Regions from separate parts of the Homo sapiens genome. Here region 2 is linked to region 1. The links come from fine-mapping of genetic effects on gene expression. A gene starts in region 1. The other region holds a variant in brackets. All regions are shown on one strand. Distances are from middle to middle.

Evidence for each region. PIP is the estimated chance that this variant, and not a neighbour inherited with it, causes the effect. A credible set is the group of variants that fine-mapping cannot tell apart.
Region 2: its variant is the best candidate, but not a certain one, in a credible set for the expression of PABIR1 in tibial artery (GTEx, PIP 0.53).

Annotation. Positions count from the first base shown.
Region 1 is chr9:68,777,861-68,782,253 of GRCh38, forward strand. PABIR1 (PP2A Aalpha (PPP2R1A) and B55A (PPP2R2A) interacting phosphatase regulator 1) reads left to right here and starts at 2,205. Exons shown (of 1, transcript NM_138333.5): 1 at 2,205-4,393. The coding sequence starts at 2,305. The coding sequence ends at 3,168. The region is part of intron 2 of PIP5K1B (phosphatidylinositol-4-phosphate 5-kinase type 1 beta); the gene reads left to right. RefSeq lists silencers at 1,694-2,108, 2,226-2,465 and an enhancer at 2,113-2,941.
Region 2 is chr9:68,949,642-68,954,034 of GRCh38, forward strand. The region is part of intron 14 of PIP5K1B (phosphatidylinositol-4-phosphate 5-kinase type 1 beta); the gene reads left to right. It overlaps LOC101927069 (a long non-coding RNA gene), which reads right to left. Exons shown (of 3, transcript NR_110647.1): 3 at 3,447-4,393. Among named protein-coding and RNA genes, the nearest start is that of PRKACG, 62 kb to the right of the region's middle. RefSeq lists enhancers at 202-821, 822-1,441. The variant G/A (reference allele first, on the strand shown) is at 2,290.

The sequences.
Region 1 (4,393 bases):
ATATTAATTTTTTTGTAGACATTTCCTCCTCTCTCCTGTTTTTATTGAATAATTTGTAGCATTCTTTCAGCCACTTACAGTTGAACTTCAGTCATTTGTGTCTCCTGTTCATCCTCTGCACAGCATGCTATTAGGTTCTGTTGTTGCCTTGTCTCCCAAATCCATCTCCTTCTGCCTTTCCCAACTTTGGTTTTAGACCTTTGTTTCGTCTCAGAATTAGCCATCCTTCTCTAATTCATGCGAAATTCTCTCTTTAATCCATGTGAAATTCAGAAAAAACAATACAGGTTTTTGAAATGAGTCCTTGATTCAAATTGGTTCAGATCTTTGTTCTTCCGTGTACTGGCTGTAGTGCCTTTTGCAATTTTTGAACCTCAATCGTTCCTTCGTAAAATGAGTATAACAATATCTATGCAGTGAGGATTAAGTGGGATTATGGAGTGTTTAAAGTGCCTAGCAGGGAGTAGGCACTTAGAAAATGTTGGTTCTTTCCACCTTGTGTTCTTCTGCTTCAGATCTCTTAATTTCTACAACTCTAAATGTGCTATTTTCCTCTCTCAGTAAATAATACTACCATCTCACCAGTTTAAATAAAAAAAGCTATGAGTCCCCTTCGAATAATCTATTTCTTTCACAATCTAAATTTAATCCATCTGCAAATCCTATTTGTTCTAACTCAACACATATCCTCAGTCTCTCTGCTTCTCCCCATTGACACTGCTACAACCCTAGTCCAAGAATCTTATCTGTACTGTTGCCATAGGTCCTGAATTCATCCTTCTGCCTCCACTCTGGTCTTCTTTCAGCCTGTTTTCCACAGAGCCTAAGTGATATTTAAAACATAAACCAGATAATATCAGTCCCCTGCTTAAAACCCTCCAGTGGCGTTTCATCATATTCAGAATGAGATCCAACTCTTACCCTCTCCTAACACTCCCGCTCTTATGCTTCAGCGGCACTGCCCTTTTTTCTTTTTCTGCTAACTCATCAAACTCATGGCTGCCTCCGGCCTTAGCACTTGCTATTCTCTCTGCTTGGAATACTCATTCCCCAGATGTCCACGTGACTTACTGCTTCTTGTCATTTAGATCTCAACTCTAATTGTCCCCTGACTTCTATCAGTAGTGCTCCATCACACCATCTTACTTTTCCTAAGGCTTACCACTATCTGAAAATAGCCTGCGTTTCTCTATTTTCCCCTCAGTAAGAATTAAAAGTTCATACTAGGGCCCATTTCCTAGCAGTGTTTGGCACATAGTAAGTATGCTGAAAAAAAAAAACCTTGACTGACTGAATAAATGAACAAATAAACTCACTTTTAATGAGATATCAAGGTTTTATATTAATTACATGAGCCAAGAATTGTGGTTTCATTTTTAAAATGTGAGGACCTACTGGTTTAATCCTTCATACTTCACACATATGCTTGTGCTGGAACTATGACTGTAAATCAATAGCAATACCATCCTCTGTTTTGGCTTCTTCCCCTAACCTAAATAGTTCTCAGATTTACTTTTCTCTCCATCTCCACTGCCACACTGTCACCTTAGTGCAAATGACCATCCTCTCTGGCCTTTTTTCTGTAAGGTTTTAATCTCCCAATATGTATTCTCCAGACTGCAGGCCAGTGAGCTTTTCAGTTGCTGTTACACCCATGCTTGAAAACCCTTTAAGTTTTCATTGTTCTCAAGATAAAGACCAGAATGTGGTCTGGTCCACCACCTCACGTCAGGCCAGCCCTCACTCTCCACTCCAGGCCACACTTTCTCCTCCCCTCCTGGTTCCCGCCTGCCAACTGGCTGGGTAGCCGTTGCTTCCCGCTTCCTGCAAAGTTCTACATCGCACCCATTTCGCCCACTTCTTCAGATTTCAGGAGATTGTTCCTTCCTCGAGGAAGCCCTCCCTGATTAGGCCAAGCGCCACTCCACGTCATACAGCCCCACATCACCATGGGCCTCTCTTTCAGGGCTTTGTTTTATGAGTATGCAATCCAGAATATGACAATCTTATTGACATGCGTCAACGCGAGCTTGCGCTCAATAGCTATTTGCCGAAGGAATATACGGACTAGCGGCCCGACCACTCCTCGCCCCTCCCCTACCACTGCCGCGCACATATTACGCATTAAGCAGGCGCCGCGAGTACGGACATCGCGAGCGCCTGCGCGAAGGGCTACGCATGCGCAGAGGGGCCAGCCCGCTGACAGATTCTCGGTGGCGGCGGCAGCGGCGGCGGCCCTGGACTGCGGGGAATGGGAATCCTAGGTCCCTGACTGAGCACCTCCCCCGCCTCCCTGCCCCCGACATGGCTCAGGAGAAGATGGAGCTAGACCTGGAGCTGCCTCCGGGTACGGGCGGGAGCCCGGCGGAGGGCGGTGGCAGCGGCGGCGGCGGGGGCCTCAGGAGGTCTAACAGCGCCCCCCTGATCCACGGCCTCAGTGACACTTCGCCGGTGTTCCAGGCCGAGGCGCCGAGCGCCAGGCGGAACAGCACAACGTTCCCGAGCCGCCACGGCCTGCTGCTGCCGGCCTCCCCTGTCCGCATGCACAGCAGCCGCTTGCACCAGATCAAACAAGAAGAGGGCATGGACTTGATCAACCGAGAGACGGTCCACGAACGGGAGGTGCAGACCGCAATGCAGATAAGCCACTCCTGGGAGGAAAGTTTCAGCCTGAGTGACAACGACGTGGAGAAATCCGCCTCCCCCAAGCGCATCGATTTCATTCCTGTGTCACCAGCACCGTCACCCACTCGGGGAATTGGGAAGCAGTGTTTTTCGCCATCCTTGCAAAGTTTTGTAAGTAGCAACGGATTGCCTCCAAGCCCTATTCCCAGCCCAACGACCCGATTTACCACCCGGAGAAGCCAGAGCCCCATCAATTGCATTAGACCAAGTGTTCTTGGACCATTGAAAAGAAAATGTGAAATGGAAACTGAATATCAGCCAAAGAGATTTTTCCAGGGCATCACCAACATGCTTTCTTCTGACGTTGCACAGCTGTCAGATCCTGGTGTGTGTGTATCTTCGGATACCCTTGATGGAAACAGCAGCAGTGCCGGATCTTCTTGTAACTCACCAGCGAAAGTCAGCACTACCACCGACTCTCCTGTGTCACCTGCCCAAGCGGCTTCTCCATTTATTCCACTAGATGAACTTTCGTCTAAGTGATTCACTCATCCTGAGACTTTCTTTTTGCAGTGGAGAGAGAGAATAATCTAGTTGGGGCAAACACTGAACTTTGTCAATTAATTTGAGGCTATTTCCTATTTGACCCCTTTTCTTTTTTGAAATTCCCTGAAATGATGTTATTCTAGAGAACTTCTATGTCAGGTTCCTTTGGATACCCTTGAATTCAGTGTAGTAATATTTTCAGACGTTTCCCCAATAAGTGTGTTGAAGCATACATCTTTACGCTGCTAATATGTCTAAATACATATGTTATCCCTTGATTTTTTTAAATAACTGAGAGCTCTATTTATTTATGGGATTATTAAGTTCTGATGAAAATATAAATGTTGACTTAATCAGCATAGTAAACTGATGTTTAAAATTCCATACTTCATGCCCACACTAATTTTTAATGTTATTTTCAGTGGTTGCCGATTTCCATTTGATGAAGAACTATACAGCTTAAAAAAATACGTTAGTTATATCTATCTAGTGGTTGTCTGTTTTACCCAGGAATTCTTGGATATTTAGTTTTCTGGGTACTGAAGTGGATGGGAGGGGGAATGATTAAAGAACAAATTATAAAAGTTTGAACAAATCTTTTCAAATTAAGTATATAAAAGTAAACTTTTAAGAAAAACATTTTTAATGAGATTTTAATAGTAATTCTAGTCAGTCATACAACTATAACTACTATAGAGAAAATAAAATTTTTTCCTTTTTTTTTTTAACCGGAAAGTGCATTTGCTTGGGTGTAATCCTAAAGTGAAATGGGACAGTGCCTTGCAGTCTTTGCCCACTATACATAGGCTAAGGCTAAGCTCTTTGTACTACTGCAAACTTAAAAGTTTTTCAAATGTGGGAAACGTGTGGGAAGGCTTGTTGAACTTTGGCGCACTCAGGTAAACAATACTCTCTCAATTGTTGATATACTTTAAAATATTCAGTTGTGCCTCAGTTCCAGAAATTATTGCCAAACAGGAGCCACAGCAATTTTTGGCTACTTTTCTGCTCTGCCCATCTGTCACCTTACTGGTTTTCCCTTGTTCAGGAAGGAAGCAGCTGTTTCCTTGCCAACAGGTCCCTTCCTCTCCATCTCCCACCAAACTAGGGCACCATTGATTAGACAAAGGTACAGTGTAACTTGGGTTTCTGACAGCAACAACAGGACTGTGAATTGTTTAACCTCTGTGGTTAAAGCTACAGCTTGAGTTGACTGCCTTGG
Region 2 (4,393 bases), 170 kb after region 1:
TTTTGCCTTAAAGGTGTTAAAAGAAAAAGTTCAGCTGAATTAAATTGAAAGGAGTTTACTTGAGCAGTGAACAATATGTGAATCGGGCAGCCCCCAGAATCATATAGCAGATTCAGAGAGACTCCAGCGCCGACACGTGGTGGAAGAAGATTTATGGACGGCAAAAGGAAAGTGGCGTGCAGAAAACCGAAGTGAGGCACAGAAACTACTGGCTTGGTCAGAGCTCGGCGTTTGCCTTATTTGAACACGGTCCGAACAGTTGGCTACATCTGATTGGCCAAGACTCAGTGGTTGGCACAAATGTAAACTATGGTTGGTTTACACTTCCGCTTGTTGTATAGTTATCGATGTACAGAAAAACCTTTAGGCCAAACTTAAATATGTAAGGAGGCAGCTTTAGGCTAAACTTCATTTAACAAAGGTATTTTAGGTTAGCAACACCTCTGGGAAATGCTTCAGCCAGCCCCAAACCTGCTTCCCAGTGTGGTTCCTCTGACCTGAAGCCAACATACATTTCTGCCCAGCAGCTATTCGTGACCTCCCTGAGTCTACAGAGATCCTTGGTTCTGTAGTCAAGCAGGGTAATTCTCTTTCAGATTCCTTGGCCTCCACTGACTCCCCCTCTTTGCTTAAAGGTCAGTTTGGTCCTTCTGAGCCTTGAGAGTCCCCCTCTCCACCCTGACCATTTCACTCTGCTGTTTGCTTTGTCCACGTGACAGTTGCACTCTTGGGTGAAGCTGGCCTTATGCAAATTTCGTCTCACCCTAGAGAGCCCCTGGCCAGCAGCCTCACACAGGGCAGCACCCTTCCCAGGAGCTTGTCCATACCCATTCAGCTGCCTTCCCTGCCATGGCCTCTCTTCGAGACGTTTCCCTTTGGCCCAACCACTGTATTTCCATTTGCCTTCTGAGCCTAGCTCTTGTGTTGTGTACAAAGTAGTGTTCCCTGTGTGGGCCTGGGATCTGTAACAGGTGAACTTCCAGGTTCATGTTACCAGTTCTGGCCATGTCTCCTCCACCCAGAGGTCCTCTAGCTGGGGGGTCTGCAAGAATCCCAAGATTCATTTTTGTTTCTCTGATATGCTTCAAACATACAGGAAGAGTAACAAACAATTTCTTCCAAGGCAAGTAGAAAGTTGGTCCCGACATCCTCTGTTTAATCCTTCTGTTACCTGTGGAGTCATCACCACAGTAGTGAGCCTTATCTCCTGTAATTTAAATGACTTGTTGATTTGGGAGGGAAGGAATTTCACTGGGGAAGTCCACTAACATAAACCTGCTGCTGAGGACTCATTCACTTCACAGCACCAAGCTGGCCCAGCCTCCCCACAGACAGACCAAACGCCTCTACCACAACCTGCCTTTGCATTTAGTTCATGATAGTTATGGGTGCAGGAGAATTAGGTAAGTGTAAGGAGGGAACTAGGAGACAATGTTAAACTCTCCATTCAGAATAATATTAATCTAAAATGGAATCATTTAATAACCTGTTTTCAAGGATAAAGTAATAAAGGTGACATGTGTAATGAAGTAATGGAGCTCATTATTTTTCCAGCCAGCCCTATTAAAAATTAGTGTGTGGAAGGTCACAAATAACTTAAAAATGACCAGATTTGTTTTCAAAATGAAGGATTTGGCTATAATGCAAATTTCATCCTGAAGGCTACATGGGGAAAAAAATAATGGTAGAGTTTCTCTGTCTTTTCTTTCATTGCTTCTCATCACACTGGAAGAATGGTTCAGACTAAGCACTTTGTCTGGGAGAAGATTTTTTGTCTTTTATTTATGTATGAGTGCATTTCAGTTGGTGTCCTCCTAATTCCAACCACCCTCACCTGCTGCTTTCTGTGTGGTCACTGAGTTGTGACAGGAGAGAGGCCAGGTATTCGAAGGCCAGGTCAAAGCTCATTTAGGGAACCGGTCGAGCCTTCGCCTTTTCCCTGTTCACCCTCCTGCCTTTCCAACCTAAGTGGTAAAACTCATCCTGAAAGAATCACGGAGCTTTGGAGATGAGAGGGAACTTTGGCCATCATGTCATCCAGCCCTTTTATTTATTAAAAAAGGTATTGATTGATTTTAAAATTTATAAATTATTTTTGTAACAAAACTCTATGCCCAGAGTTTAACAAATAGTCGTGTAACATGTGTTAAGAAAAAGAGCAAGCCGTAGTCCACCTCCCCCTACGTCTTCATGTGCAATCACCTTCAACTCTTTGAGCTGATTCCTTTGGCAATTACTTTGGTTTTTCTAAATAACATGCTTATATTGTTATTGCTTGATCTATTGGGT[G/A]TAGGCATTAGCTAATAACTGCCCACTATAGAAGACGAAGATTTAGCTGTCTTTTCTCCACCCGACACATACCACGTATGTGTACTGTTCCCACCCCCTCCTCCTACACCCTTCCAGTTTCCCTGTATAGTTACATCTTGACTGTAGTCCGATCGATATTGAGTGTTTTATTATGGCTTTGTGAATAGTGTCATATACTATGTTTCAGTTTCCTTTCCTGTGTGACTTTTTGTTTTTATTGTAATAAATGACTGCCTTGTTCTTCGGTTTGCTTAGTTTTCTGTGTATTTTTCCTTAATAGAACCCTAAGCTTTCCACCAGTGTCTTCATTTCTTCTCAAACCATTTAAGTGCATGAGGTTCTGTTCCTTTTATTGTCTTGCAGAAGTTTCCGCCAGACACTTCTGACCAGCCTGGACTGAACTGGTTGCCCTCTAGGACCTGATGTACAAATGTTACTTTGGGGCCTCTCTGCTCCATCATTCTGGGGATTCTAGTAACCTCTTGTCTGTATCAGTTCCGTTGTTTGTCATCTCCTACATCTTCCTCTTTGCTTCTTCCTCTTTCTTGGTTTACTCCCTCATTTTGGTGGAACACATTTTCCAGAAGAAAATCCTCCAGTATGAAAAATATTCATTGCAGGCAAAATATTTGAGATCTTGCATGTCTTAAGTCTTTATTCTAACCCTAACACTTGATTGATAGATTAACTAGTATAGAATTCTAGATTGCAAATATTTTGGATTTTTTTTTTCAACATGGTGAAGGCTTGGCTCCATTGTCTTCTAGTTTCCAATTACCATTGAGAAATCCAGTGCTGTTCTGATTTCTGATCTTCTGTAAATGGCTTGCTTTCTTTGCCTGCCTGTCTGCCTGTCTGCCTGCCTGCCTGCCTGCCTTCCTTCCTTCCTTCCTTTCTTCCTTCCTTTCTTTCTTTCTTCCTATTATTATTATTATTATTGCAGAAACCTGTAAACTCTTTGATTTTCTCTCAGAGTCTCAGTATTTCATGATGCTAGGCCTTGGTGCAGGTCTATTTTCAGCCAGCATGCTAAGCACTCAGGGGACCTTTTCAACCTGCAAACTCATGTTTTGAGTTTGGGGAAATTTTCTAAACTATTTTCTTATTTCCTCCTCTCTATTTTCTTTTTCCTTTTTGTAATTCCTTTTATGCATACAGAATATCCTGGATTTGTCTTCCAATTTTCTCTACTTTTCTGTCTTCAGTCCCATCTATTTATGTTTCTGTCCTAGTTTCTGAGAGATTTCCTCAACTTCATCTCCTAATCCTTCCACTGAGTTTTTAATTTCCATTACCATGTTTTATAAGAATTCTTTTTTTGTTCGCTGAGATTTTATTTTTTAGCAATCTTTCCTTTTTTCATGATTGTAATTTCTCTTTTTTCCTGAAGATATTAGGATTATGTTTTTTGTTTTGCCCTGAATTTTGTTTCTTCTCCCTTTTTAGTCTCGGTTTTCATCCAGGCTGCCTTTTTCTCTTTGTAGTCTACATGTTCTATACTGGAGGTTTTCCTCAGATTTTTGGAAATCTTCATTTGTCTGCTCAACTAAGGCTTGAGTGGGAGACTAGAAAACTGATTAGAGGCCAGGTGTGGTGGTTCACACCTATAATCCCAGCATATTTGGAGGCCGAGGTAGGAGGACTGTTGGAGCCCAGGAGTTCGAGACCAGCCTGGGCAATACTAGTGAGACCCCATCCCTACAAAAAAAATTAAAATTAGCCAAGTGCAGTGACACACCTGTAGTCCCAGCTACTCAGAGGCTCAGATGGCTTGAGCCTGGGTGGTTGAGGCTGCAGTGAGCTGTTATTGCACCATTGTACTCCAGCCTGGGCAACAGAGCAAGACTCTGTCTTAAAAAAAAAAAAAAAAAAAAAAAAATCCCTGACTGGAAACTTAAGCACTTGAGCAGAGCTTGTTGACCAGCAAGCTATTGAGCTGGTCAGACTCCCTATAGGAGATGCTTCCAGTTTCTTGCTTGGAGGAGAAAGGCCTGGCTGTCAGCCTTCTGGGACATCTGGCAGGAACAGGTGTCTTAGCATCTAGTATATACATATTTACTTCCTCTCTTTCTTTTACCTCAAT